7 linked regions of the Homo sapiens genome follow. The protein of the gene in region 2 interacts with the protein of the main gene of each other region in a biochemical or structural test. Each region holds a gene or a part of one and is shown on either strand. Other genes may lie near its edges. The genes, in order: CUL4A, UBE2E3, MARCHF5, HERC4, TTC3, RNF111 and RCBTB2.

Region 1 (4,470 bases), on a different chromosome or scaffold from region 2:
ATTCATGAGGGACCTGCCCCCACCCACCCGGTCCCATCTCCAACACTGGAGACCACATTTCAGCATGAGATTTTGAGGGGACACATATTCAAAACCATATCATTGGCCTAAGAGAGAAATTCCCTTAACCAGAGTTTTAAAAAACATTTATACTATGTTATTTTTCTAGAAGTTTTTACATTTAAATCTTTCTTTTCATGTTGCAGAAATTATTTTAGTATCTGAAAACAGTCTAACTGCCCCCATCCTTTCCAAAACCAAATTTAAAATATCATCCTTGAACAAGTTATTTGAATTATCACCTTATTATGTATCAAATTCATATAGGTCAGTTTCTCAATTCTCTTCTATAAATTCTGTGTCTATTTCATAGCCAGCCATTTTTTTTGTTTTGTTTTGTTTTGTTTTTTGAGACAGTGTCGCCCAGGCTGGAGTGCAGTGGTGTGATCATAGCTCACTGCAGCCTCAACCTCTTGGGCTCAAGCGATCCTCCCACCTCAGCCCCAGGCATATGCCACCACGCCCAGCTAAATTTTTGTATTTTTTGTAGAGATGAGGCCTTGCCATGTTACCCAGGCTGGTCTTGAACTCCTGGGCTCAAGCAGTCTTCCTACCTTGACCCCCCAAAGTGCTGGGATTACAGCCGTGAGCCACCGTGCCCGGCACCAGGTTCTTTTAATTAATGTAGCTATTCCTATAACTTTATTCTTCCAATGAACTTGACAATAATTGTATCACGCCTTTGCTCCCCCAAATAAGAACATTGACATTTTTAATCCATATTGCATTAATTTACAGAGCTTTTATCTTTATCATATTAAATCTTGTGATTCATACATATGTGTATATATGTAAATACATACAAATCTTTTTCTCAGAGCTTTCTAGTTTTCTTCTGTAAGTCTTGCATATTTCTTGCTAGTCATAAATTTTCATTCATTCAACAAATACTTATTGAGCATCTGTGGTGGCCCAGGTCCTCTGTGAAGCACTGAGAATTCATCCATTAACAATAAAGAATAAGTCCTTGTTTCTAGGAGTGTTCAGTCTTTTCCAGCAGAGAGGTAGCAGAGGATCACACACATTGACTAACTTGTAAGAGTGGAGGAAAATGTTAGGATAGAGAAGTGCAGGAGAGTCTAATTAAATACTGTCGTCAGCCAACGCTTTCCTGAAGAAGTGACTAGCTTTGCTCAGGAACTGAAAGAAGGCCTCTGGCTGCAGCATCGTTGCCAAAAGGGGAAGCTGAGCCAGACAGGCCTGATCAGGGAGCCACAGCTGGACCCTCTGAAGATGGCTCAGATCCATGAAGCATTTGGAAAACCACTAGAGTTTTAAGCAAGACAGGCTAATGAAATGCTGATATCTTATAAAGGGGACCTTTTTTCTTTACATTTCTGACGGTTTTTATCAGAATGTATGTATTAATGCTATTTGTCTTTGTATATTTATTTTATTTCCAGCCACTTTACAAAACTCTTTAGCTTTGAAAGTTTTTCTGTTGATTTTCTTGGATTTTCCAGCTCATCTACAAATAATGATCGTTTTGTCTGCACCTTTTCAATATACCTCTTTAGTCTGTTCCTGTATTGCATAGTTAGAACCTCTAAAGTAATGTTTTTAAGGAATAGCAGTGCAGCTGAGCTTCCTAATTTTATCTCTAGTTCAGAGGATGTTAACTTTTTGGGGGTCATGGATCCTGTTGAAAATGTGATGAAAGCTTGGAGTCTCTCCCATCCTGAAGCATACTTGCCTCATATGTATGCACAGACCTTCCCCCAGCCCTCATTTCAACTGCAGATCCCCATCAGGTTCCTGTTGGACTAAGGTTAAGTTGTCTCTAGTATTTGCTGTTTGTTTCTGATAACCATGTTTTATCATGTTCAGATGCTTTTTTATTCATCCTTGTATGCTAATGTTTGTTTTAAATCAAAAAATCAATTTTATCATGCCTTTTCAGCATCTATCAAGATGGTCATGTAATCTAACCTTTCAACTGCTACAGTGCTCTCACTTATATTCACAGATTTCCTAATGTTGATCAACACTTAACATTTCTGGAATATATCCTGATGGTCATTATGTTTTGTTTACTGTGCTGCTAGTTTTAATCTACATCACACATAGAGTTGTTGCAGCTTTCTTATAAGGAAAATAACTTTTAAAAATATTTTTTAAGTTTTGGTTTTGGAGTTTTGCTATTCTGGGAAGGTACCTTTTACTACAACAAGTAAACATGCATAATAAAGTAGGATTCATCCAATGTCTGACCTTTCTTTGCATCAAAAGAACATTTCCGGCCAGGCACGGTGGCTCACGCCTGTAATCCCAGCACTTTGGGAGGCCGAGCCAGGTGGATCACGAGGTCAGGAGATCGAGACCAGCCTGGCTAACATGGTGAAACCCTGTCTCTACTAAAAATACAAAAATGAGCCGGGCATGGTGGGGGGGCACCGTAGTCCCAGCTACTTGAGAGGCTGAGACAGGAGAATGGCGTGAACCCGGGGGGCGGAGCTTGTAGTGAGCCGAGATCGCGCCACTGCACTCCAGCCTGGGTGACAGAGTGAGACTCCGTCTCAAAAAAAAAAAAAAAACCATTTCCCATCAAATTCGGTAACATCAGGTCATTAATATTGAAATATAGGCCAGGTGTGGTAGCTCACACCTGTAATCCCAGCACTTTGGGAGGCCAAGGTGGGCGGATCATCTGAGGTCAGGAGTTCAAAACCAGCCTGGCCAACATAGTGAAACCCTGCCTGTACAAAAATACAAAAAGTAGCCGGGCATGACAGCAGGTGCCTGTGATCCCAGCTACTCGGGAGGCTGAGGCAAGAGAATCGCTTGATCCTGGGAGGCGGAGGTTGCAGTGAGCCGAGATCACACCATTGCACTCTAGCCCAGGCAACTGAGTGAGACTCCATCGCAAAAAATAAAAAGAAAATACAGTTTTACACTTAACTTTTTTTTTCTTTTTTATACAGGTTGAGGAACAGGTTAGCACCACTGAGAGAGTGTTTCAGGATAGACAATATCAGATTGATGCTGCTATCGTCAGAATAATGAAGATGAGAAAGACTCTTGGTCATAATCTTCTAGTTTCTGAATTATATAATCAGCTGAAATTTCCAGTAAAGGTAAATGTAACATTAGCATAATTAAATTTGTAGTATTTGCTAAACAATTGACAAAGCATGTTTAATTCTATGTTCAGTCATATCATTTGACCTGCATTATTCATGGTGCTTTGTGTATACACTGAATGTAGAAAAACTGGCAAATGTGAAGCTCTTTATTCCAGGTGTTGCTCATTGCCACTGCAGAAATGATAGAGCCCTAAAACTCTCCTTCCCAGGGATGGTGCGCGCTTGTTCATATTTTCAGGAAGGGAAGAGGTAGATGGGACATGGAAAGCTGAACACTTTTCTCATAGTAGTAGCGGTCAAGGTTACATCACAAGATTTTAAGGAAATGATAACAATAACTAACTTACTCAGCGTTTACAGCCTACACCGCGTTTTCCACCACGGTAATAGTCTACTGTTGCTGTTGCTTATGAAAGTCAGCCCAGGCCTGTCAACCCGCGTTGTTTTCAGAACTGAGATTTACTGTCCTGCCACGTGTGGGATGCAGGATAAGCCGGGAAAGTATTATGAAACGTTTTTTACATGTATTTATCAACCCAGGAAATACTGAACTCTGATGACGCCTGGCCTCTCAGGGACAGGACCGGCCACACGTGCTTTGGAGGGAAAGTCCCCAGATTCCATGTTGTGCAGTTTGAGCCTCCCATTCCATCAAGGGAATAAAGTTGAGATGCACTAAATAGTCGAACACTTAAGAGTCTGGTGGAAGTGCCACTGTCCATCAGCCCACATTTGCCCCCTTCCCTGCAGAGGTGAGGTGCCGTCCTCAGGGCCCTGGGAAGCTCCAAAAGCACCATCAGGTTCACTGCCCCTTCCTCCCACCAGCTGGAGCAAGTCTCCTGTTGCCACTGCAAACAATCAGGCCCAGCGCGAAGCAGAGGTGAGCAAGAGTGGAGTGTGGCAGACCAGGGCACCTGCTCTGCTCTCGGGTAGAGAGTGGCAGACCAGGGCGCCCACTCTGCTCTCAGGGGTAGAGTGTGGCAGACCAGGGCGCCCGCTCTGCTCTCGGGTAGTTGGGTTTTTTTTTTCTTTGAGATGGAGTCTTGCTGTCCCCCAGGATGGAGTGCAGTGGCACGATCTCGGCTCACTGTAACCTCTGCCTCTCGGGTTCAAGCAGTTCTCCTGCCTCAGCCTCCTGAGTAGCTGGGCTTACAGGCACGCGCCACCACACCCAGCTAATTTTTGTATTTTTAGTAGAGACAGGGTTTTACCGTGTGGTCAGGCTGGTCTCAAACTCCTGACCTCGTGATCCGCCTGCCTCAACCTCCCAAAGTGCTGGGATTACAGGCGTGAGCCACCGCGCCCAGCCTCAGCCACATCTTGTAAA
Region 2 (4,291 bases):
TAAAGTGTCTTATTTAAGGCCACAATGGTAGTTTGTGGAAGAGCTGCAAATATTTTAAGTAACCAATTCCCTCCACTTTATCCCACACCAGTATGGACACAGCCAACAAGTAAGCAAAATAGTTTGGCGGTGGTAATTAGGCTCATGGTAACTAAAGGAAGTCTAATCATAGCATCCCCAAACATCCCAACATTCAGTATGATTTAAGTTTTTCTAGCACCAAGAGAGAAGTTTATTACTCTAGGGTGTAGAATGTACAATTTTGGCAGTGGAGGAAAAACTACGGTTGATAAAAAACCTTACAACTTAAACGGTCTCCACTTGCATCACATTCACTTGGACTCCATTATAAATTATTAGTTAGGTTTTCACAGAGGTAAAGTCTGAATTCTTCAAAATAGTACCTTTGTATAGTGCTCCTCTGTAATAATGTTGGGGGTGGGGAGTTTAAGTGAAAAACAGATATGTAAGTGTAATTTTAATTTTACTCTGATATAAGACTTCTACTGACAAACAGGAGTCTGCTATTCTAGTGACACACACAACTACACGTTTTACTTTATCCGGAAGCATTTTTTATGTTAATATTTTCACTCTATACATTTTTAAGATGATACTTCATTTCCATATTGAGGACTGGAGAAGACACCTGCCCCATATACCACAACCTTGGTTACATGACCAGAGATGATTACCTTAGTCACAGGGAAACAAAACAAAACAAAACACCACCACCACACACAATTATACTCTGTTTAGCAAATCTAAATATTGCAAAGAAATTCTAACTTTCAAGAAATCTAACACTTCAGAATTACAACTAGAAAGAAGAAATTTAACCTTCTAAAAACCTTACAATTTGGTATTTTACCAATTGAGAAATAATATCACATCTGTACACTAACACAGTTCTAGTCTACCTTCAAGGCAGACAAAGATTTCTGTGTTCATCTCTGCCTCTGGCTGTATTTGCTGGCCACTTGCCATAGTAAGAATGGTAATACACAACATGAACATTCAAGACCAGGATTAGAAGTAAAAAGTGCATCACAGACTAGCTACCACATCACAGTTACCATCTGACAATATTGCCCAGTGCTGAACAAAAATCATCAATTTGGAAGCAACATGTTCCATAAGACATTACCAGATTCCTGAGTGAGCGAGCCAGGATTTCATATTCTTTTTGGCTTAAACATCATATTACCGAAGTACAACTTTATGTGTTTGAGACCAATGGGTCAAAATCCACTTTTGATTATTTAAGGTCATTCTTTCAATAACAAAGGAAAAAAACTCTATGCATTTAATAGGATTTTAAATGTTTTCAATTTAAGAATGGGTTTATTTGTGCTAGTCTTTAGTAATCTTCATAGCCACATTTTTACTTCATCAACAATCATCTCAGACACACTTTCTAACAAGACTGACTTAAAATATTACGACAGGAAACTATGCCTTCAGGAGCATGTTTATTGTGTTTGAGATGATACATCAGGTGCTCTCTGAGCTACAAAGGGTAAAAGGAAATCCTCTCATTACAAACTGACAAAGGTAAAAGGTAAAACATTTTTCACAACAGCATGAACCACATACTCAGAAATAGATCTGGGTTTAATACAAATGACATAATTCCTAGCCATCTACAGCTACTTTTATAACTTCATACAGATAATGAATTAGGCTAAAATGCACTATAATATTTGGTAGACTTCAGGACCAGTATCCTTAGTACATCACAAAATACATTTTGATATCCCAAAGAAGCAAGACTTGCAAGTAGGCGTTTTAAACATAACTAATCTACAGCTACAAAGTTCTACTCTTGATAGCATTTACCTTTTTGGGGAGTCTCCCAGGCTCCAAAGGATAAAAGCAGAGTAGAATCAGTATAACATATACACAGAAGTCCGTATTGTAAAGGCTATAAAGATTTGCAGCACAGTGAGAAGATGCCTTCTGCTCCTTCACACTGCATACAAATTATGTGAATTATGTTGCGTATCTCTTGGTCCACTGTCTGGCTATCCTGTCGTGTTCTGCTCTGTTGGTCAAATACTGAGTGGCTATGCTTCCAACCAGAGGATCCGCTGGAAAAGCAGAAAGAACATTAAAAGCTATTTTGTGGTATCTTCTTCAAGGTATAGTTCTAATATTCTATTAAAATGAAATGCTTATTTTTCAGCAGTATCTTCATATATAATAGCTAAATTTTCAAAAGAAAAAGTTTAAAGTAACATGATCATATGTATATTTTAATATTCCAGTTAGGAAAGTCCCCTTCATAAAAAAAAAAATGAATTTTGAGCTATATATAAAAAGTTAGATTTGACTTTTATAAAAGATATGTCTTTAATATACAAAAACTATTTTGTAATTTTGGCCTTTCATTCAAAATGGAAGTATACTAGGTGGTTATATTTCTGCTTATGAATAGTTCAAAAATGGTTAATTTTAAAATAAAACCCCAGTCTTACAATACCATGCTATTTCAAATAAAATGCTTCCTTCATTCTGTGCCTGATATGACTCTAATCACTATCAATATTTACACTTGAAAACTTACTTGCCATTTTGTTTTAAGTAGAATTCTGAACTAGAGAGTGAACCTGATATAAATTTTTATTTTGATGTTTAAAAACAAAAAAATATGTACATATGGTACAATATTTGAATTGTACCAAACCATAGCCAGTAAAAAAAAACTATCTTCCTTCCTGACTCCAACTGCTCAGAAGTTTCTTTCCCTGGCAAACAATTGTTACCCATTTACAACATTACTTCCCAGAGTTCTTACATGCACTGACAAGCATTTAGAATATTATGTTGTGTATATGTATTTTTTTCCAGTGCCTTTTATACTTAATATATCTTGAAGATATTTCCCTATTAGTTCATATAGAGTTGTCACATTCTTTTTAAACGTTACATCTATTAATGGGCATTGAGGTTGTTTCCAATACTCTAATAAAGGATACCACAATGAATATCCATCTGTCACTATCTATTGCATATGTATCTCTGCCGAGCATAAGGTAACAACAGTAACAGTCTTTAGTGACTTATCAAATATTTAGAAGTAAGTCAACTTAAAAAAAAAAAAAAGGTCACATAACGAAACAAAATGTGTGAAATTTCAGGTCTAAACATCACTTTATCAAGTCAGCTACCCAAGTTTCTGAAGTTCACATGTGGCAGGCATTTTTTAAAGTTATGAATTATACACAAATGATTTTATCTGAGGTTATATAATCATAATCTAGTTCAATTCTCATTGGCTATCATTTTAATATCCATTACTACTACACTTTATATAACTAATTAATTAAAAAAGGAAGGGAGAACAAGAAGCCTTCTATTATTAAAGTAGTTGCCTAAAAGCATACAGCAGCATGGAAGGAGCAGGAAAAGGAGGCACTGGTTTCAGACACATTGCTTTACTCTTGTTAGAAGTGGTCGGCCGGGCGCGGTGGCTCACGCCTGTAATCCCAGCACTTTGGGAGGCCGAGGCGGGTGGATCATGAGGTCAAGAGATCGAGACCATCCTGGCTAACAAGGTGAAACCCCGTCTCTACTAAAAATACAAAAAAATTAGCCGGGCGCGGTGGCGGGCGCCTGTAGTCCCAGCTACTCGGGAGGCTGAGGCAGGAGAATGGCGTGAACCCGGGAAGCGGAGCTTGCAGTGAGCCGAGATTGCGCCACTGCAGTCCGCAGTCCGGCCTGGGCGACAGAGCGAGACTCCGTCTCAAAAAAAAAAAAAAAAAAAAAAAAGAAGTGGTCTGTGCACCTAAATACTTTTAAAAGTAGAGATTCCATTAATGATGGTGACAAAATAATTATAGAGTGGTATGCCATTAACAAATTAAATGAAGGTATTGAGAAACTTTTGGCCTAGTCTACTTCAAATGGCATTGGTAATTTCCTCACAAACTGTTTTATGGGGATCTTTCTATGAATAACATTTACCTCTCAATCTACATTTAAAGCTAACTAAAAAAAAAAAAAAAAAAAAAAAAAAAGCACTCGTTTTTGTAGTCTTATTGTACATGTTAATAAAGATTTGCTTACCAGGGTTGCAGTCTGTCAAAAGGGAACAAATAGACAGCAAAACCTTTGAAATAGTCAAAGCGGGACTCCAGTTGTCTTTAAGGATGTCCAGACAGATGACTCCCTGACTGTTGATGTTGCAGTGATAGATTCTGGTGCGGAAAGTAACCTAAGCACAGTCACATTAAAAACAGAAGGAAAATGAATGCTGTATTACCAATTAAAACACTAAAAAAAAATGAAG
Region 3 (4,470 bases), on a different chromosome or scaffold from region 2:
GCAAATAAATTCAGAATATTTGAAAAAATCCTTTGTCGGGTTATGTGTCCTTTTTTTGGGTTTAGAAATATAAAGAAGAGTGAATATTCAGGTATAGACTAGAGCGAACAAGAGGAAGTTTGTTTCTCATGGGTAGCAGTAAAAACCTTATAAGGTGTTTAAGAATAAGGAAACAAAAAGGAAGTAGGGGTTGGGCACTGTGACTCACAATTGTAATCCTAGCACTTTGGGAGGCTGAGGCAGGCGGATCACCTGAGGTCAGGAGTTTGAGACCAGCCTGACCAACATGGTGGAACCCCGTTTCTATTAAAAATACAAGCCAGGCGTGGTGGTGGTCATCTGTAATCCCAACTACTCGGGAGGCTGAAGCAGGAGAATCGCTTGAACCCAAGAGGTGGAGGTTGCAGTGAGCCGAGATTGCACCAGCCTGAGCAACAAGAGTGAAACTCCATCTCAAAAAAAAAAAAAAAAAAAAAAAGAAGGAAATAGGGCAAAGAATGAGCAAAGGCCCAGTATTTCACTTGTTACAACTAAAGTGAAGAGAGATGCCCCATGCTCAAGCAAGTTAGAAGTGGGATGAGGCTCATCATTCACACATGCATTCATTCATTCACTGAATAATGATTTTGTGCTGGGGCTAAAATGGCAGGTTAAACAGATGTCTTTTGAAAGTGAGAGAAAATCAAACCAAACAAGTGTGCAAATATATACACTGTGAAGAAATAAGGTAGTATAACACCTGCAGTACACCACTTGCTAAAACAGTCATACTCAGGGGCAATAAATGAAAGGTGATTAAGCAATAGGCCTGATTTAATTTTGGCCAATACAAAGTCAGTGAACCTGTGTGTAATCACATACATTCTGCTTTCTTGTCCCAAGATTTAAAAACATTATTTTTAAGACTTCGATTTTGGGGTAAGCTCCAGGAATTATATAGAATGTCTAAGAATTTGTTATCTATGTATAAAATAAAGGCCTGGCTGGGCACAGTGGCTCACGCCTGTAATCCAAGCACTTTGGGAGGCTGAGGTAGGTGGGTAACTTGAGTCTAGGAGTTTGAGACTGGGCAACATGGTGAAACCCTGTCTCTACAAAAAATACAAAAATTAGCAGGGCGTGGTGGCATGTGTATGTAGTCCCAGCTGTGCAGGAGGCTGAGGTGGGAGGATCACCTGAGCCCAGGGAGTTCGAGGATGCAGTGAGCCGTGACTGCGCCACTGCATTCCAGCCTGGGTAACAGAATGAGACTCTGTCTCAAAAAAAAAAAAAAGAAAAAAAAAAAAGAGAAAAACAAAAGACCTATAGAATTGCAGGTTTAGAGAAAAATAATTTTTTGTTTTTCCTGCAGAAGGGCTAAAAGCTAGATTTTCATATCTAGGTAGGCCTGCAGTTCATTGCTGCTGAAAGGCTAACAGTTTTAATTAAGGTCTGAGCTTTTAAATTATTATTAGAATTCTACATTAATTAATTAGAGACAGAGTCTTGCTCTGTCGCCCAGGCTGGAGTGCAATCTTGGCTCACTACAACCTCTGCCTCCCAGGTTCAAGCGATTCTCACGCCTCAGCATCCGGAGTAGCTGGGAATACAGCCACTATGCCTAATTTTTTCTTTGTATTTTTGGTAGAGATGGGGTTTCATCATGTTGACCAGGCTGGTCTCCAACTCCTGGCCTCAAGGGTTCTGCCTGCCTCAGCTTCCCAACGTGCTGGGATTACAGGCATGAGCTACAGCACCTGGCCAGAATCCTAACAAGAGGATGAAACAGTGATGAAATAACAGGGTTTTTTTTTTTTTAACTCAGAATCAAGGATAAGTAAGTACTGTAATTAAGAATGGGCAATGCTAATGGGGGCTGTCTTTGCACTAGAGGCAAAAATGGGAACTAGGCTAAACATATTAAGGTTCCACTGTTCCAGGATAAAATGTTCCAGCTGCCTCTGGGACCAGGCTTCACTTAAGGAGCCAAGGGACAGGAGTCCTAATGCTTCTCTGCTGTGTGGCACTGGACCTGTAAACTCTCTAAACCAGTAAACTAGGAATAATTTATAACAATAATCTATGTCATAAAATTGTTGCAAGGGTTAAATGCATCAGTGCTAGGTGTTCAATACAGTGCCGAGAAAAAAAAATTATTGTGTTGTCTTTTCAATAAAAATGCAAGAGGAAGGTCCTATTCAAGTTCCCCACAACTAAAAAGTATTGATTCTATGACAGGTCCATGGAGAAGGAAAGAAAATAAATGGGAAAATAACAGTGATCTGATTCCTTGATTTGGTTTACTTGTACTGCAGGGTTGTTAAGGAATCAGAGAAAAACAATCAAGTGTTAGAAGGCAAACCCTAAATACTACTGATGGTGTAGAGGGGCACATTCTCTATCATATGTGCTCAGGAAGGTAAAAGTCATCTTCCCAATACTCTTAAATCACACAACACTATCCACCTACTGTCATAGCTAGTCTCATTTCTGGGCTAAAAAAAAAAAATCTTTTCAAGTGAGACATTACATGTGAAGGTTATTTCTAAATGGTAACACATATGTGTACTATAGTTTTTGCTTCCTTGCTTATTTCATTCTACCAATTCAAATTATTTCCTTTAAGGGTTAGCTCAAGACTTTTCTCATAATTTCAAATCAAATTATCTTTCACTTTTACTGAATTAAAATATTGTTTATATAGTCTTCTGCCCTCTTATCACATTTATCTATCTAACCTGTAACTGTTCTCCAGTGGTTTCATTTATGAACGTCTTGTCTTGGACTATATCCCTTGATGCTGGGGATCAGAGTTTTCAATTTATTTGTGTTTTAACAAGTGCCCCATTAATTATCAAAATTCTTTTAACATTGTGCCAGCCTAAAAATCTTTCTTAAAAAAGAGCCATCTCACTTCTTATGGTCAATAAAGTCTTAAGAAAATAACTCAATCTCATTTGCAAAATATATATATCTATATAATGTATTTGTACATTAAATAATGTATAATCTGCTCTAAGTTTCTATGTCTTTCTCAGTCTTAGTAAATCATCCTGATCCTCCCTCCTCAGGTGATGTACTAATACTCATTATTTGAAGTGGTCACATAAAAAACATAAAGACTGCCGGGTGCAGTGGCTCACACCTGTAATCCCAGCACTTTGGGAAGCAGAGGCAGGCAGATCATCTAAGGTCAGGAGTTCCAGACCAGCCTGACCAACATGGTGAAACCCCATCTCTACTAAAAAGACAAAATTAGCTGGGCGTGGTGGCACATGCCTGTAATCCCAGCTACTCGGGAGGCTGAGGCAGGAGAATCGCTTGAACCCGGAAAGCGGAGGTTGCGGTGAGCTGAGATCACGCCACCGTACTCCAGCCTGGACAACAAGAGCGAAACTCTGTCTCAAACAAAAAAACAAAAAACAAAACCACAAAGATTTATGAAACCCTTTAATGTGTTAGTTTCTATGTAGATGCTGTAACAGGGAATACAGAAGCATAAAATGGACTCTGCTTTCAAGGAAATTACCTCCTAACAGGAAAAATAAGGCCTAAAAACAAGAAAAGTTAAACAGATAATCTATATAAGAAATGTCACTTCATCAGGGCAGGACTAGCTGCCATTTGAGGAATAAAAATGTCATGAATGTGGGGGAAGAAGGAATCACAGCAGGCAGGAGTTGCCTGTAAGTTCTATGGAGGAAAGCTAGCTAAGCCTGGAAGGAGGGTTTAGATTTGGATAAGTACACAGAAGACTAGAAGGGCAGGTATTAGGTTGGGAAGGTGACGTAAGCCAAAGGACAGAGGTGAAAAACTACACAACATAAGGATGGGTTGGAGGAGACAGCCCAACAGCCTTAAAGCAGAACGAAGTACGATTACAGAGGACCCTGTGTATCAAATCATGCTAAAGTTCAAGTCAGTGGTTCTCAAACTTTATTCACTACACTCATGTCAGATATGTTTCACTGTTTGTGATTCATTTAACTGTATCCATATTTTTGGGATGTCATCATCATTTTATAAGGAAGTCTCATAATACTCTGTCTCACCATGACCATTAATGGAGCAAGCCATAAAGGTTTGACCCTGGCATAGATACATATGCAGTTCCTGGAATATTAGGTAAAATTCCAAGCATTCCTTTTTTGTTCATGTAAATTCTAATTTATATTAAAGAAAAGCAAATTATATCATCTACAAACCTAAGTGTGTTCACTACTACAGAGTTACTTAGGAAACACTTAACCAATCTAGATGCTGCTCTTGAAGACTACTACTTAAGGCAATGGAGATGTTAAGCTGGGGAGTAAGATTTTGAAGGTACTATTTTAAGAGGATTCATTTGGAAGGATGGATTGACAGAAGAACATGAAGTCAGATAAACCAAGAAGGTCCTTTAGCCATCCAGGTATGATGAAGTGACAAGAAGTCAGGTGGTAAAGACTGTGGAAAGGAAGCCACAGACACAAGACACATCAAAGTGGAAAA
Region 4 (3,500 bases), on a different chromosome or scaffold from region 2:
GGTACACAAAGTACTTTGGGTAGCTATAAAGAAGACTGCTGCATGTGATATGTATATTCTTATGAGAACATTTATAAAAAAAGGTTGCAGTGAAAATGGAATAACTTAACCTATAATCATTTTATATATTAAAAATTGTATAAGCCTCTTTCATTACAGAAATATTCAATCTTTATAAACCGTTTTACTAGTTTACTTGATAAGATGTTGGTTTGTTTCAAAATCTTGTTTCATTATATGTCCCCTTTTTATATGCTTGGTAAGAGATGGAAGTCACTAGAGGTGAGAGATGTTAAAAGTAGGAAGCATTTGATCTCGTTAGGAAGAAGATGTGAAATTTCCTTGAAGAAAGTTTCAATAATAAGGTATTAAACATGTTCCTGGGGTTGGTCACCATTATCTCCTATTCCTCTTTCTTTTCCCCTTCCTATCACCCTTTCCCATCCATTTTATGTTGAGAGTTCTTTCATTTATAGAGAGGATTTTTTAAACTAATTCATATTATGACTTTAAAGGGTTACAGTAAGTTTGCTTTATCATTTGATCCTGTAAATAAAAAAGATTTTGAGCTGCTTCCTCTGGTATAGAATATCTGACTATACCAACTAAGGATTAAGGAAAGGATGAAAAGAAAGCTTGAATATTTAATAGTCTAAAAATATTTTAAAAAATTAAAAACCTTCAAATCTTGGTAACCATTTTTATTCTGTTCAAATAAATGCATTTGGTATTCTAAATATTTTTGTAGTGTTCTATACTAACAGCTAGTAAGCCAATTTTTTGGAGGTCTTTGTTAAAACGATAAGTTAATAACTTGGTGATTTTACCATGGGATATTCCATTTTAGAACAAGAACTCAGGGAGAACCATAATAAAAGAACAAAAGTTTTAAATGGTAAAAGTCAAATCCTTGGTTCGTGAGCACATACCATGATCACTTAGTTAAGTGAATTTGTGTAATGCTTCCTTAGCCAGATCATTCCTTATTCTTTGTTTTTTATTTTTTATTTTTGAGACGGAGTTTCGCTCTTGTCGCCCAGGCTGTAGTGCAGTGGTACAGTCTCAGCTCACTGGAACCTCTGCCTTCCAGGTTCAAGTGATTCTCCTGCCTCAGCCTCCTGAGTAGCTGGGATTACAGGCACACACCACCACGCCCTGCTAATTTTGCATTTTTAGTAGAGACAGGATTTCACCATGTTGGCCAGGCTGGTCTTGAACTCCTGACCTCAAGTAATCTGCCCTCATTGGCCTCCCGAAGTGCTGGGATTACAGGCGTGAGCCACTGCGCCCAGCCTGTTCCTTATACTCTTTAAAGGTTTGTTTTTGCTCCTCCCTCTTTACCCTCCCCTCCAGTGAATGTTTTTTAGAAAAACCAATGCTCAGATTTATCAGTATTACTACCGTTCTGTACTGGCTTACTCTAATGGTGTTATGAGTTATACATTATACATTAGTATAAAAACATTCAAAAGGGTACTCTTTATGCTCAGTTTATTAAGTTTTATGCTGTACGGGATACTGTTAGGTGCTATGTTAATTCAGTAGCATAGGAATTATAGAATACCTGTAACTAATAGGTAGAGGTTAGCTTGTTTCAGTCACAGTAGCTTTATTGTAGCATTGCTGTTAAAATGTTAATCTTTTGTTTTCCAGATGGCTATTGATCAGGCCCACAGGCAGAATGTCTCCTCTCTTTTTCTCCCAGTGATTGAATCTGTGAATCCCTGCTTAATTCTAGTGGTGCGTAGAGAAAATATTGTAGGAGATGCAATGGAAGTCCTTAGGAAAACAAAGAACATAGATTACAAGAAGCCACTCAAGGTAATTTGACATTTTCTGTGGTATAATTGGGACTTTTATTCAGAAGCTATGTTTAAAATTTTCCTATTTGTTTTTAGTGAATCTTTTAAACTTAATAAATAAAATTATATTTATTTTAAACTATTAATTGTAGAGTATTAGTAATAAATAACATGTTCTAGGGTCTCCAGAATGTACTTTCATTTCTTTACAGTCTATTTGGTGTTTGCATTGTGCTATTTTAGGTTATATTTGTTGGAGAAGATGCTGTGGATGCAGGAGGGGTGCGCAAAGAATTTTTCTTGCTCATCATGAGGGAATTATTGGATCCTAAATACGGCATGTTTAGGTATTATGAAGATTCCAGGCTCATTTGGTTTTCTGATAAGGTAAAATGTCCAACCATCTAAATTACTTCTGTGTATATACCCATGTATTTATACCTGTATGTATCAAGTTAATTCAGTAAATAAGGAATTACTACTGGATCCCTAACATATAAGATCTGCTTTATTACAATTTGAGAAATTATAAACTTTGGACTTGGAGTTGTCAAAATACATTTGATGCTTACCACACATTTTAAATTAACAAAATAAATTAAGAGATGGTTAGCCAGAAAATAATGTTGACTATTCCTTCTGCTGATTTCAATTTGAGGATTGAATAATAATCACCAGATTAACTTTTCTGTTGGGAAAAATTAATTTATCATTAGGGATCATTGATTTATCTACCTTGTCATTTAGAGCAGGTCAGCAGACTATAGCCCATTAATCTCAAAGAAAAAAAAAGTCACACCCACTCTTTTACCTATTGTCCAAGGCTACTTTCATGCTACAATAGCAGCGGCAGAGTTTAAGTAATTACAACAGTGACCTTATGTCCAGGAAACCCCAAAATATTTGCCATCTGGTTCTTTATAGAAAGTTTGCTGACCCAATTTAGTGATCATAAGTGAAAAGGATGGATCAGTTTAGTAGAACTCCTGACTTGAAAGAAATTTAGATAGAATAGCTATTGGTTGTAAAAACCTCAATGTAATATTTAATCATTCTGCCTGGAGGTTGGCTGTCTTGTGTAATGTTAGCAGCTTAGTGCCTAGACTCTAATTCATCAGGGGTTGCAAAATGGTGTGCTACTCTAATATTTCTTTTTCATTTATTAGCTTGGATACTTCTGTATAGAGAAATTTCCTCACGTTTTCTGATTCCTTAGTAGTGCAATTCATAGGAAAGGATTCTATTTAGTTACCAATTTTTCAAAAGAATGAATTGGTTCATTAGCATAGTCCACTGGTAATAATTCATTTTTTGTGTTTTGCTTTCAAGTATCATTAGGTATTCATAGGTTTAAACATACTTGATGTTTTTCAATTCACTGCAGTTATTGTCTTCATTGATGCTCATATTGTCCCATCTTTGTTCAAGGAGAGCTCTTAAGGTTGGTGCCCAAGTCCTTTTGAAACAACCTATATACTTTTTGGTACCTTCCTTGCTACCTTGTGTACTTACTATGACAGAATGTTCCAGACTTATCTTACACATTTACTGCCTAACAGTACCAACATTACCACCAATATTATGATTACTAAAATGTTTTAAATTGTTTTTCAGTTCTTTTTGTACAAAGAGTATACCCTAATATAGATAGACAGCCAGATAATATAGTTTTGATATAATTTAAAATTGTTATACTCT
Region 5 (4,470 bases), on a different chromosome or scaffold from region 2:
TTCAGACTTGAGTCCTTCGTGAGCCTTTGTTGCCTTGTGTTTCACGTGGTCCTTAGCACGCTGGGTTACAGGAGTTTGTCTGTTTGTCTTTCTGGCAGTAGAACAGGAGTTCATCAATGGTAGGGACTGTCTTGTGCATCTCTATTCCCAGGACTAGCATAGATGGTACCTAGAAGGCACTCAACATTATGCTGAATCAGATTGAAGTTTTATGGTTCTTTGTAGTTGGTTTCCCGTTTAGTCAGCCATTTTGCCCTTGGTTTCTAAACTACACTTGTGTCAAAGCCAAATAAGGAATAGAACATGGCCTATGCCAGTAGTATGAGGAGTTATTTTAAGGCTTTAGTGTACTATATGGAAATGTAAATATTTAGTTTTCTCACAAAACCATCTGTATATTCCTACAGACAGCCGCTGTACTGTGTTAAGGAAACAAGATAGTGGTGAAGCACCGGTAAGTTACTTGGATCACTTGAATCTTACGTTCTAATCTGATGTTAAACCAAGGATGAGAAGGGGACCCAGGCCAGTGTTTATTGACATCACAGCCAGCATTCAAGAACCACATTAAAAGGACGTCTGGGTAGTACGTACTATTATTCATTAGAAAGTCACTGCCAGTTTTCCTCTCGGAATTGGAGCAATAATCAGCAAACTATGAGGCTTAAATTAGACAATTTCTATAAAGTTTCAGAGCTGATAAACATTAATATTCTAATTAAGAAAGGAAGAGTTCTTCATCTCCTGGCATAAAAATGAAAAGTTGTCTTTAATAACTAAACTTCTAATGTTCTGCTCTAGAAGGAAAACAAAGGGACTTTGTTTTGAGTGGCTCTAAATTACGTTTAAGTTAAAACAGTTCCAGAGTTGTCTTCCTTAGTAGTTTGCAGTTGCCTTTTATTCATTCTTCAGAAATTCTTCAGTTTAGGAAAGTGAGTAAATAGAGAAAAGCACAACATTGTGGCAGTTTTCAAAGAGAAAAATGCCTGTTTACTGATTTTCAGGAGCAAATCATCTATCTATATGAAATTTTGTCTTAATCTGCTCCATCAAATATTGCCCAGCTAAGCAGGGAAACACAGCTGAAATACTCCATAAGGAGCTGAAGGCTTCTTTATTCACTGTTTGTGCCCCAGTGTCTGGTCAGGTGCAGAATGTCTAGTTTGGCTTAGTAAAAGAAATATATTAATAATAAATTTACTATTATGGCATCTAACTGGAATTACTTAAAAGTCTGATTAATTACTTGAAATAACAGTCCAACCCTGTGGAAAATAAGATAAAAATGTTGGAACAACTTAATTTTAGTATACATTAGTATTATTAAATTTTGTTTGTTTTCTATTATAAATCGTAGCACTTGGGCTGATACACTGTAGTGTTATTTTTGTTAAACATTTTATGTACATTTAACTTATGGCTAGTCTGTAAAAACTCATATGGTTTCTTTATGTTGAGCTTCATAATGCTGTTATTTGAGTGTTCACTGATTTTTCCCCCCATTTTTTAGTTTAGTTCAACCAAGGTGAAAAACAAAAGCAAGAAAAAGAAGCCAAAGGATTCAAAGGTATGGAGTATTTTCTGTATTAATTCTTGTCTAAACTCTCCAAAATAGTTAGTTGGACATATACATTAGAATTGAGCAATTCTTGGGATATTTTGAAACATTTGTAGAGAAAGACTTTCTAGGACTTAAAGATGTTTTGGCAGTCTTCTACATTTTGAAGAAATTCCAGGTTCATATTATATAATAGCAAGTCTTGACACTCGTATTCTTTATTGTCTTTTTTATTTTTCTAGGTATTTCTGAGTAAAAAAAAAAAATTGTCATAATGTCCCAAAAAATAAATAAGTCTCAAAAAATAGATAACATATTTAAACTAAAAATGATGAATACTAATCATTATGACAGTCCCAGGATTGATAGAATCCCTTCCTTCCTCTCACCAAAGGCTCTCCTCCAAGCCCATTAGATAAGTAGGGCATTTTTATTTTTATTTTTGAGACAGGGTCTCCTTCTCTCACCCAGGCTGGAGAGCAGTGGTACAGTGACGGCTCACTGCAGCCTCAAACTCCCAGGCTCAAGTGATCTTCCCACCTCAGCCTCCCGAGTAGCCGGAATGACAGGCGCATGCCACCATGCCCAGCTAATTTTTTGTATTTTTTGGAGAGATGGGGTTTTGCTATATTGCCCAGGCTGTTCTAGAACTCCTGCGTTCAAGCGATCTGCCTACTTTGGCCTTACAGGCGTGAGCCACTGTGCCAGAAGTAGGGCACAATTTTTAAGTCTTTGGTGGGTTCTTCATGGCTCTTGTGTGTATGTGGGGAGCAGAAAGGGGGATGGAGTGAGAGAGAGTAGCAAATCTTCAAAGGATGAGAACAGTTAAGGAGTTCCAATACAACTTTTATTTTTATCTTTGACTATGTATTTAGTTTAGATAAAATGGGAGTTTAAACTGAGTAACATTTAAATTTTTTTGGAGCATTGGAAACTATCCTAAATGTTAATTTGAGCTTATTTTTGGCTGTTGAAACTTTTATTACTATGTGTTCCTGTTTATAAGAAAATTTGGATAGATCTTATATATCAGCAATTTGTATGTGTGTTTATATAAGTATTCATCAATTTTAATGATTTTTCTCTTTAATGGAATTTTAAGGTAGAAAATCATTGTCATTTTTCTGTCTTTTAAACCAGCCTATGTTAGTTGGGTCTGGAACAACTTCAGTAACTTCAAATAATGAGATCATCACTTCAAGTGAAGACCATAGGTAAGTATAATTTTTAAATTTTTGCTTCATTTTAACTCAAATGTCTTTACTTAATAAGTTGTGTTAATTTAATATATATAAACTTGTGTTTTATTTCCCTAACTTTCCTTTCTAAAGCTGTGCATCTGACAACCTGATGTAATTCCATCTTGATTACATTTATATAGTGTGGCTAGAAGGCATTAAGAATTCATTCAAACTGTGTTAAAGTCACGACACTGGTGACATTCATTCACTAAGTACATATTGAGAACCTACCATGTGCAAGGCTCTGTGGGAAAATCATAGAAAAATGTCTAGAAATTATTCTTTAAAATAGTCAATAAAGAGAATGTCCTGTTAATACTTACTAGGCATTTTTGCCTGTAAGAGAGGAAGCTGTTTTGGGAGCTGTATATGATGTTATGTTTTCACCTTATATATTAGTGATTTTCAATGCCATCTGGTTGTCAAAACTGAGTTTTCAATAAACAAATATTTAAGAAATAAAACTAGTGAGTAGCAGTAACCTTTTTATATCATACTCCTTTATGAACCAAAAATGTACAACATGGTTTTTTTTTTCTCATTTCTTAAAGGAGCTATCAGAGCAGTTAAAAATTACGTGGTCATTTCATGGATTCTTTAAGTAGGGTAATTGTTTTAAGTTAAAATAATAGCCTGTCTTAGTCAGTTTGGGCTGCTATAACAATATACCATAAACTGGGAGGCTTACACACAGAAATTTATTTCTCACAGTTCTGGAGGCTGGGAAGTCCCAAGATCAAGGTACTGGCAGATTCAGTGTTTGGTGAGGGCCTGCTTTCTGGTTCATAGATGGTGCCTTTTTGCTGTGTTTTCTCATGGTGGAAGGGACAAGGCAACTCTCTGGGGCCTCTTTTATAAGGGCAATAAGTCCATTCATGGGGGTAGAGCCTAATTACCTCCCAAAGAATCCACATCCTAACACCATCACATTGGTGATTAGGTTTCAACATATGAGTTTTGCAGAAACACAAACATTCAGACCATAGCATAGCCTTTACTGAGATTAATTCTTATGTATCAGACATTGTTTTGGGGGTTTACATACATAAACTCTTTCAATCCACTTATCCTGCCTAGGAGGTAAGTGCTATTATATTCTGTCCAATGTACAGATAAGGAAACTCTGAGGCACAGTGCAGAGCGACTTGCCCAAGAACACAAAGCTTATAAATAGCAGAGCTGGGATTTAAGTCATGCAGCCTGGTTTTAGAGTCCACACTCAAACTACTACATCTTTTTAGAGTGCTAACATCTTACATTTAAAAAAAACTTTTGTTTAGATGGAGTTTCGCTCTTGTTGCCCAGGCTGGAGCGCAATGGCGTGATCTCAGCTCACTGCAACCTCCACTTCTTGGGTTCAAGCAATTCTCCTGCCTCAGCCTCCTGAGTAGCTGGGATTACAGCCATGCGCCATGACGCCTGGCTAATTTTGTATTTTTATTAGGGACGGGGTTTTTCCATGTTGATCAGGCTGATCTCGAACTCCTGACCTCAAGTGATCTGCCTGCCTTGGCCTCCCAAAGTGCTGGGATTACAGGCGTGAGCCACCACACCTGGCTTAAAAAAAACCTTTTATTAATACCATTTACCAGTCTCAGTCTCACTTTAAGTTAATTTATAGCAGTTATAATACAATCTTCATTTGTCTTTCAGTCATTTAACAAGTTATAA
Region 6 (4,470 bases), on a different chromosome or scaffold from region 2:
GAAAGGTAATAAGTTTATCAAGGGTCCCACTCTTCTTTTCATAATTGAGTACATTATTAGGTTGTGTACTCCTAGCAGAAATCTCTTGAGAAATTTTAGTACGAGCTAATGCACTTGAGGGTCCATAGTGATACTTTTGAGGGAAAATACCTTTCTTGCTAATGAAATTTTGGCTATTTAGAATATGTAACAAAGCATATTGTCTGTATTATCTAGATATGAGTAGTAGTAGTTATAGGTAGTAGAAGAGAATATTCTTTCAGGCATTTGATTTAATATACTTAAGCTGGCACATAGTAAAATAAATAAGAGAATTAAAAATTTAATACACACCCCAAGTGATATCCCTGTAGTACAGGTATTATTTTTTTCACTTAATTATATTAAAAAGATAGTTAAATGGTAGACATATTTCTAGTTGATTTTCTGATAATCTCTAAAACTTTTGTAGAAAAATGCCAAGTCATCTATGGCTTTTTTTTTTTCTTTTTTCTTTTGTGTCGGAATTTTGCTCTTGTCTCCCAGGCTGGAGTGCAATGGCGCGATCTCGGCTCACCGCAACCGCTGCCTTGCGGATTCAAGCGATTCTCCTGCCTCAGCCTCCCGAGTAGCTGGGATTACAGGCATGTGCCACCACGCCTGGCTAACTTTGCATTTTTGGTGGAGACGGGTTTTTTCCATGTTGGTCAGGCTGGTCTCGAACTCCCAACCTCAGGTGATCTGCCTGCCTTAGCCGCCCAAAGTGCTGGGATTACAGGCGTGAGCCACTGTGCCCGGCCGGCTTTTTTTTTTTCTTTTAAAATCTTATTTCTTTAGAGTCATGTAAGCAATCATTACATTTTTATTTAAAGTTGAAACAAGTATTCATATTTATAATTGGTGGTGAAGCATCATACCAATAATAGTGTATCACAGTTTAGAAGTAGAGTTCCTCAGAGTTGTATGGATAGTCTTAATGGGTTTTTCCTCCTTTTGCTCACATAAACTTGTTTATGATGTGAATTACTAAATCCCAACCCTAATTTTTAGTTTTGAAAGTTAGTATTTTTTTTTAGCTATCGTATTTTCTTAGTGCAAGGTTTACTAATAGTGGTGTATTCTACACTAGTATCAGGAGTAATTAGCATGCAGTCATCATGACATAGCAATGAAATGATTGGATCGATCTACACAAAGAGGGACTAGTATTATGGTTTCAGTATTGAAACAGTGTGTAACAGCAAGCCATTTATAATGTCACCAAGGAGATATATCTTGTACGCATTTGCCTCCTTTGTAAATTAGATCAGCCAATAATTTTTACAAAAATAAAAGACTAGAATATGGTTTTATCAAACAGCAAATAATTTAGAATATTATCTGTTATATTTGCTGCTTTTTAAGTTAAATGCAATACTTGTGTTTATTTCCTTTTGAACTTTCCTCTTCTAAGTTCAAAATACAGCCTGATACAATTACAGGGATGGATTTTAGAAAAAAAAATTTAGAACATGATACAATACAGCGATGGATTTTAGAAAAAAAAATAGTATGAATTACTCCCTGGGTGGGAACCTCTTAGTTATATGGGATATTAATTTTGCATTTAATGACTGCATGATATGTTAACTCAGAGAAGAGTTAACTGGTGTACAAACACACACCACAGCATACACCAAACCACCCCCCCTTGCTCTCCTCTACCCTTGTCTCATTGGACAGACTAAACTGATCAAAAATCAGAGCAGATTTAACCATAAAGAGTTGATTGCATTGTTTTGGCTTTGGGACATGAAATGATGGAAAAGAAATTGGGTTTAGTTAATTGTGCTGTGAATTGCTTCTTTGTAAATTAATGTATGGCTGCATGTTCTCAGAATTTGTCTGGTTTTTGGCAAGTTTTCATTGCTTCTCATGATCTCCATTATCAACATGAGGACTTAGTAATTACGGATGAGGAGTCTAATTTTTAAATCTTCAGCCCATAAAGACTCCAAGATCTCCTCCTCTGAAATCCACCAGAACATAACTCTGACATGGGTTTCTGGAAGAACCCCAGCTGTTTCCAACATACATCATGAGACTTCTGTTGCTGATGGAGTCTCTGATGCCTAGAAATCTTGATACTTTTCCTCTTGACTTTTTCACTTTTTTTAAACCTCTTGACTTTCTGGCAGGAGTTTTATTGAGATTTTATTTCACTGGGTTTTTAGTATATTCACAGAGTTGAATAGCTGGCACCACAATCAGTTGTAGAACATTTTCAGTTCACTGAAAATAAAAGAAATTCTATACCTTTTTTTCTTTTTTTTTTTGGGAGACAGAGTCTTGCTCTGTTGCCCAGGCTGGAGTGCAATGGCGCAATCTCGGCTCACTGCAACCTATGTCTCCTGGGTTCAAGCGATTCTGCTGCGTCAGCCTCCTGAGTAGCTGGGATTACAGGTGCCTGCCACCATGCCTGGCTAATTTTTGTATTTTTAGTAAGACAGGGTTTCTTTTCACCATGTTGGTCAGGCTGGTCTCAAACTCCTAACCTCAGGTGATCCACCCGCTTCAGCCTCCCAAAGTGGTGGGATTACAGGCGTGAGCCACTGCACCTGGCCCACCTTTTTTTTTTTTTTTCCCCACTCTTGTTGTCCAAGCTGGAGTGCAGTGGTGTGATCTCAGCTCACTACAACCTCTGCCTCCCTGGTTCAAGCAATTCTCCTGCCTCAGCCTCCTGAGTAGCTGGGATTACAGGTGCACGCCACCATGCCCGGATAATTTTTTGTATTTTTAGTAGAGATGGGGTTTCACCATGTTGGCCAGGCTGGCCTCGAACTCCTGACCTCAGGTGATCTGCCCGCCTCGGCCTCCCAAAGTGTAGGGTTTGGCCACCGCGCCTGGCCAGAAACTCCATGCTTTTCGGCCATCATAGTTGAATCCTCCGATGATCCCCAGCCCTAGGTAACCACATTCTATCTATGTAGATTTGCCTATTCCAGACATTCCATATAAAGGGAATCTTACATTATGTTATCTTTTTGACTGGTTTCTTTTACTTAGCATATTGTTTATCCATGTTGTAGCTTGAGTCAGTATGGTAGTCTGCGCCCCTGTCCAAGGGGAAACCATTCTGAGTCCCCCAGTGGATGCCTGAAACCATATAGTGTTTTTTTTTTCATATACCTACATGCCTATGATAAAGTTTAATTTATAAATTAGGCAGAATAAGAGACTAACAACAACAATAAAGTAGCAAAATTCTAACAACATACTGTGATAAAACTTATGTGAATGTGGTCTCTCTCTCATAGTGTGAGTAACTGAAGCTGTGGAAAGTTAAACTGGATAGTGAGGGACTACCGTACTTCATTTCTTTCTATTGCTGAGTAATAATCTTTTGTATGGATTTATTTATTCATCAGTTGATTGGCATTTGTGTTCCCACTTTTTTGGCTGTTATGACTAATGTTGCTGTTTATAAGTTTTTTTATGAATATGTGTTTTCATTTCTCTTGGGTACATACCTAGGAGTGGAAATGCTAGGTCACATAGCAATTTTGTGTTTAATTTTTTTTTTTTTCTTGAGATAGAGTCTTGCTCTGTTGCTCAAGCTGGACTGTAGCGGTGCAGTCCCAGCTCACTGTAACCTCTGCCTCCCAGGTTCAAGCGATTCTCATGCTTCAGCCTCCCAAGTAGCTGGGATTACAGTCAGTGCGCCACTATCCTGGCTAATTTTTGTATTTTTAGTAGAGATGGGGTTTCACCATGTTGGCCAGGCTGATCTCGAACTCCTGGCCTCCAGTGATCCGCCCGCCTTGGCCTCCCAAAGTGGTGGGATTACAGACATGAGCCACCGCGCCCAGCTTGTATTTAATTTTTGAGGATCTGCTAGACCGCTTCCCAAAGTAGCTTGTATCATTTTACATTTCCATCAGCAATATATGAGGGTTCCAATGTTTTTTTTTTATGCATCCTCTCTAACACTTGTTATTACCTGTGTTCTTTATTACAGCCATCCTGTTTGGCCCCATTCAACTCTTAGATCACATGTACCTGTGTTTTATCATTGTGACTTCTGTGTTCTTGCCTTTAATTAAAGTGATCCTTGTCTGACTGGCTGCCTTCTGTAATTTGCTCATTGCCATGCTCATGTTCACTCATCTTTGTATTCCTGGTTTATCACTGATCCTGCTGAACTACAGATAGCGCGTGATGGCTGATCTTGGATACAGCACTGCCTGTGCTTGTGAATAAGAATAAAAGAAGATAGTGGTTTTGATAGCTTTCTGTAGGAATAGGTCATTCTATGCCTTAATTATTGTCATTTGTTCTGATAGTAAAGTTATATACTATAGTAACATGGGAGACCTGTAAGATTATATATTTCTGTAACCCATTTGTAGAGAGGGAAAATACTTGCTTACTAAACAGCTGTTGTACTCGCTTTTTAGGAACTGGTTTCAAAATGTATTTTATGGGCAAAACAAATCTGTGGTGTCAGAAGTT
Region 7 (4,470 bases), on a different chromosome or scaffold from region 2:
TAAAAAAGTATTAAAAATGAAGCCTGATTCAGATGCAAACACCACGTGCCACCATCTTGACATCTGAGATGGCCCTCCATCACCGTGGCTCATCACTGTGATGCTCAAGAATGGACTAGGAAAAGTGCATGGATTTTGTCTGACCATGAAACATTCTGTGTTGTAAGTGCCCAATATGTTATTGCCTTGATATAAAACATTCACTGTGCTGTTAAATGTCATTGTTTTGAGGTAGTACTTTTTTTTTAATGTTAAGTGAAAAAAAATCTAGGTTTCAAGTATTTACAAATATATAATGTGACATAAAACAAAAACTCAGAAGCTGTTATATGAAAGTGCTAATGTTCTCTGGTTGATGAGTCATTACCTTCCTCACTTTTTGTCTTTTACAAATTTTCTTTAATAAGCATAGTATTATTTATGTAAACAGAAAAAAAGTTATAACCTTTCATCTACTAAAATGTCTCTGTTTTCTTTGACCAAAGGAGAGGATATCCTTATACCAAAAGGAAACTGACTCGAAGATGTTACAGCCTGTTTCCTAAAGATTTGGTTCTAAGATTGGTTTTCTTTCCTTTCTTTATTATCATAACAATACATGGTCACTGTAAAAGTTAAAAAAAAATAAGCAAAGAGAAGAAAATAAAAATCACCCACAATCCCACCATTCAATGATAACCACTAAGCATAGTTTTCAGTCTTTTTTTCTATGTAGATAATGAATTTTAGTTTTTTATTCAGCTATTTATACTTTTTCAAAAAATAAAAATAGGATAAGTTTTTCACTTAGTGATATATCTTGAATAGCTGCATAATTTCTTGATATTAACATTTTATAAACAAGCCTCCACTATTCACACTAACCTTTTTCTGATTTTTCAAAATTATAAACTGCTGAAGTAAACACCTTTGAAGCTAAGTCTTTGTGCAAATCCATGATTAATTCCTCAAGATAAATACTTGTGAGTGAATTCCTTGAAGAATTATGTCTTTAATTTAAGGTGCTTAATACATATTATACCAAATTGTTCTCCATACCAATTTGTACTCTCATCAGCAGTTTAGGAGAACACCATTATTCTGATCCTATACATTATCTCTAAAAATATATTCCTGCTTTGACAGGTGAAAAGTTATACCTTGTTTTCATTTATGTTTTTTGTCTATTTATAGAGCCATTTGTTCTTTGGTCCATTTCTTTCAACCAAACTGTTCCTATTGTCTTTTTGTTTTTCACTCTGGTAAACAGACTTCATTATATGTTGCAAGTATTTTTCCCAGTGTCTCATTACTTTGTAAGTTTCTCTATGGTATTTTTAAGTGGATAAAAGTTTCTTATCTTTTTAAATCAGAGCTATAAATCCTTTATGGCTTCTGCCTTTGATGTCCATCCCAACATTATATAAATACTTGCTTATACGTTGTCTAGTACTCTTGTTACTTCATTTTTTAAAAAATATTAAATATTTCCTCTACCCAGACTTTCTTTTAGTTTAAGGTACGAGGCAGACACCTGGGTTCCATTTCTCCAGGAGGCCGGCAGCTGGAAGCAAGCTTTCCTTACCTGTGCATCATACTTCACCGCAGCCGAGAGCAGAGCGATGGCATTCTCCTCGCAGATGCCTTGCTTGATAGTTTGTTGGCAGAGCTTTTTCAAACGATTTTCTCTATAAAATGTAGCCAAGTCTAGCAGTCCTGGCGGAAAGAGGTGTTTATTAGGGGGAGTGATTTCAAGCATCCTGATTTACAGTTGCTCACTCAGCCACTCAGAGATGATTTTGACACTATTTTAGATATAATCCTCAGTGAAGCACTGCATAGACTGATGCTGACTGACACTTACACTTCAGTGTGGGGCTCTACCCAGGATGGCAGCCAAGCTGAGCAAACATGATACACAAATCATTAGCTGTTGAAAAACAGGAGCACAGGGAAAATAGCTTTAATATTTTTTTCCTAGGAAAAAAGCATGTGCGCCTTGAATGACCCCTTCCCCTGCAATCTCAATGTCAGCTTCTCCTGGGCCACTCCCAGGAGCACACACACATGCTGTAAGAGTGCCCGCCGTGAAAAGAAAGAAAAGAAAAGAAGAAAAGAAAACAAAAGAGAAGAAAAGAAGAGAGGACAGGAGAGGGAGGGGAGGGGAAGGGAGGGGAGAAGAGAAGAGGGGAGGGGAGAGGAGGGGAGGGGAGAGGAGGGGAGGGGAGAGGAGGAGAGGGGAGAGGAGGGGAGGGGAGACCCTTTCATGGACACGTGTCTTCCTCCTGTTACCCTATCCCACTGCTCCTCTCTACAGCAAAACTCCTAGACAGAGCTATCTGTATCTGCTGTCTCCATTTTCCCACCTCCCATTCTGACCTCAAGCCATTACAAGCAGAACCCCATCCCCACCACTACTGCAGTCACACCCTTGGTGGTCACACCTGTGGCAGTCACAGTGGCTTTGAGGGTGCAATATTCTCTGGTTTCCTCTTACTCGACATTTACACAGAATTTGATATGGTTGATAATGCTCTCCTTAGGACACTTTGTCACTTGCTTGCATTTTTCTTCTCTTTAATTAGTTGCTCCTCAGTTCTCTAGGCTGGATCATTTTTCCTGACTTCCAAATGTTTGAGTGCCCCAGGGTTAAATCCTCAGACACTTTCCTCACTTACTTCCCAAAACCCCAGCCCCAGGGTTTTAAATATCATCTATATATGCAGGTGAGTCCTGTTATATTACCTGTCACCTATTTTCAAGTAATTCAACGTAGACTGGGTGAGGTGACATATGTAAATTAATTTTAATCTACCCCAAGGAATGATAGGAAGTACTCTAATTGAAGCAGTCAATCAGCATCTGAAAGATCCTATTTGTTTTTCTGAATCTTCATTACAGGATTTGTAATTAGCATAAAGAATGTCAGAATTAGTTTGTCATTGCTGAAATGAGTGGTAGCCAGGATCAAAAGGCTAGCTGAATCCGGCTACTAGAACACTGTCATGTCCACCTCAAGCTAACTTTTCATGCAAGGTACTTAATAGAGTGTACGAAGTATAAAGAGCAGGGATTTCATCAATTTTACCATATTAATTGTTTTTGTGTCTATCTGCTAATAAATCTTATACATGTGGTAGACTTTGGTTGGAAACTTGCTTTTTTAATAACAAATATTATCAAAGTTATAGAGGAAAGACAGATAGCCCACTGGAGGACACTGAAATCTTGAGTTGTGAATGGCTTCATTGTTTTTGGCCCCAAGCTTCAGACACACATGCAAGCTGCACTGCCCTAAGAGAGGACTCTGCCCCAAGCCCCAGCTCTGCGCCTCCTCCACGCACACCTTCAGCACAGGGTGGCTAAGGAGCCACATGCCCACTTCTAGACCACACTTTGGGTACCTGGGAACCTGGGACTGCCTGCATAATTGGCCTTGAGGCCACATGTGTGGGTATTTCCTCCCTTAGACCCCACCACCAATGTGCAGACCCCCTGGCCCAAAAGGGTAACCTGGGTTGGGGGTGGATAGAGCTTGGAATGCAAGCTAGGGTGCCCACACACCCTTCTGCTGGAGGAGGGGTCTGTCCTGCCTGTGCCATTGGGTTCTGGCACAAGAAGTCCTGCAACTCTAAATGTCAACTAAAATTGAAACCTGTCCTTTCAGTTCTTAATGAAATTACATTTTTCAAGGTGGGAGGATTGGACATATTTTTATCTGAAGTTCACTAGCTTGACATATAACTTTAAGTTTTTAGACATATGGAACATAGGTCTCCATTTGGAGTCTTGGCTACAGCCCCACAAATGTTAGTGGTGGGCCGATAAAAAACTGCCACTCGCGGCCGGGCGCAGTGGCTCACGCCTGTAATCCCAGCACTTTGGGAGGCCAAGATGGGCGGATCACCTGAGGTCGGGAGTTCAAGACCAGCCTGACCAACACGGAGAAACCTCGTTTCTACTAAAAATACAAAATTAGCCAGGCGTGGTGGTGCATGCCTGTAATCCCAGCTACTCGAGAGGCTGAGGCAGGAGAATCGCTTGAAACCGGGAGGCGGAGGTTGTGGTGAGCGGAGATCGTGCCATTGCACTCCAGCCTGGGCAACAAGAGTGAAACTCTGTCTCAAAAAAAAAAAAATTATCACTTGGGTATCTAATGGGAAGCTCAAACTCCTTTGACTTTCAAAGTCCAGAGCAAGCCTGTTGTTCTCTATCTTCCTCACCTCAGTGCCATTAAGGCAGCTACCCAGGCCAAGTACCTCAGTGCAGCCATCCTTCTCTCTCAACTCACACCTCTCATCCCATCTATCAACAAATCCCATCAGCAACCTCTTTAAAATATATCTAGAATCTGATCTCTTTTCAATACTTCCACTGCTATACAACCCCAACCCAGGAGACCATCATCTCACACCTGAACCAATATAATAACTGATGTTTTAAACACAGATCACATCTCTCCTGTGGCAGAAGCTGCTAGTTGCCTCTCTC

The links.
Region 1: the proteins of UBE2E3 (region 2) and CUL4A form a complex in vitro, tested with the Homo sapiens proteins (one study listed by BioGRID).
Region 3: the proteins of UBE2E3 (region 2) and MARCHF5 form a complex in vitro, tested with the Homo sapiens proteins (one study listed by BioGRID).
Region 4: the proteins of UBE2E3 (region 2) and HERC4 form a complex in vitro, tested with the Homo sapiens proteins (one study listed by BioGRID).
Region 5: the proteins of UBE2E3 (region 2) and TTC3 form a complex in vitro, tested with the Homo sapiens proteins (one study listed by BioGRID).
Region 6: the proteins of UBE2E3 (region 2) and RNF111 form a complex in vitro, tested with the Homo sapiens proteins (one study listed by BioGRID).
Region 7: the proteins of UBE2E3 (region 2) and RCBTB2 form a complex in vitro, tested with the Homo sapiens proteins (one study listed by BioGRID).

The regions. Positions count from the first base shown.
Region 1 is NC_000013.11:113,257,626-113,262,095, forward strand, and holds part of CUL4A (cullin-4A), read left to right. Parts: intron 1-2,981; coding exon 2,982-3,134; intron 3,135-4,470. UniProt on the Homo sapiens protein: Core component of multiple cullin-RING-based E3 ubiquitin-protein ligase complexes which mediate the ubiquitination of target proteins. As a scaffold protein may contribute to catalysis through positioning of the substrate and the ubiquitin-conjugating enzyme.
Region 2 is NC_000002.12:181,060,590-181,064,880, reverse strand, and holds the end of UBE2E3 (ubiquitin-conjugating enzyme E2 E3), read right to left. Parts: intron 4,217-4,291; coding exon 4,069-4,216; intron 2,091-4,068; coding exon 1,993-2,090; 3' UTR 1,456-1,992; downstream 1-1,455. UniProt on the Homo sapiens protein: Accepts ubiquitin from the E1 complex and catalyzes its covalent attachment to other proteins. In vitro catalyzes 'Lys-11'- and 'Lys-48'-, as well as 'Lys-63'-linked polyubiquitination.
Region 3 is NC_000010.11:92,342,501-92,346,970, reverse strand, and holds part of MARCHF5 (E3 ubiquitin-protein ligase MARCHF5), read right to left. Parts: intron 1-4,470. UniProt on the Homo sapiens protein: Mitochondrial E3 ubiquitin-protein ligase that plays a crucial role in the control of mitochondrial morphology by acting as a positive regulator of mitochondrial fission and as an important regulator of immune response.
Region 4 is NC_000010.11:67,953,284-67,956,783, reverse strand, and holds part of HERC4 (probable E3 ubiquitin-protein ligase HERC4), read left to right. Parts: intron 1-1,653; coding exon 1,654-1,821; intron 1,822-2,045; coding exon 2,046-2,189; intron 2,190-3,500. UniProt on the Homo sapiens protein: Probable E3 ubiquitin-protein ligase involved in either protein trafficking or in the distribution of cellular structures. Required for spermatozoon maturation and fertility, and for the removal of the cytoplasmic droplet of the spermatozoon.
Region 5 is NC_000021.9:37,159,292-37,163,761, forward strand, and holds part of TTC3 (E3 ubiquitin-protein ligase TTC3), read left to right. Parts: intron 1-407; coding exon 408-454; intron 455-1,510; coding exon 1,511-1,567; intron 1,568-2,698; coding exon 2,699-2,772; intron 2,773-4,470. UniProt on the Homo sapiens protein: E3 ubiquitin-protein ligase which catalyzes the formation of 'Lys-48'-polyubiquitin chains. Mediates the ubiquitination and subsequent degradation of phosphorylated Akt (AKT1, AKT2 and AKT3) in the nucleus.
Region 6 is NC_000015.10:59,025,251-59,029,720, forward strand, and holds part of RNF111 (E3 ubiquitin-protein ligase Arkadia), read left to right. Parts: intron 1-4,470. UniProt on the Homo sapiens protein: E3 ubiquitin-protein ligase. Required for mesoderm patterning during embryonic development. Acts as an enhancer of the transcriptional responses of the SMAD2/SMAD3 effectors, which are activated downstream of BMP.
Region 7 is NC_000013.11:48,494,627-48,499,096, forward strand, and holds part of RCBTB2 (RCC1 and BTB domain-containing protein 2), read right to left. Parts: intron 1,696-4,470; coding exon 1,565-1,695; intron 1-1,564.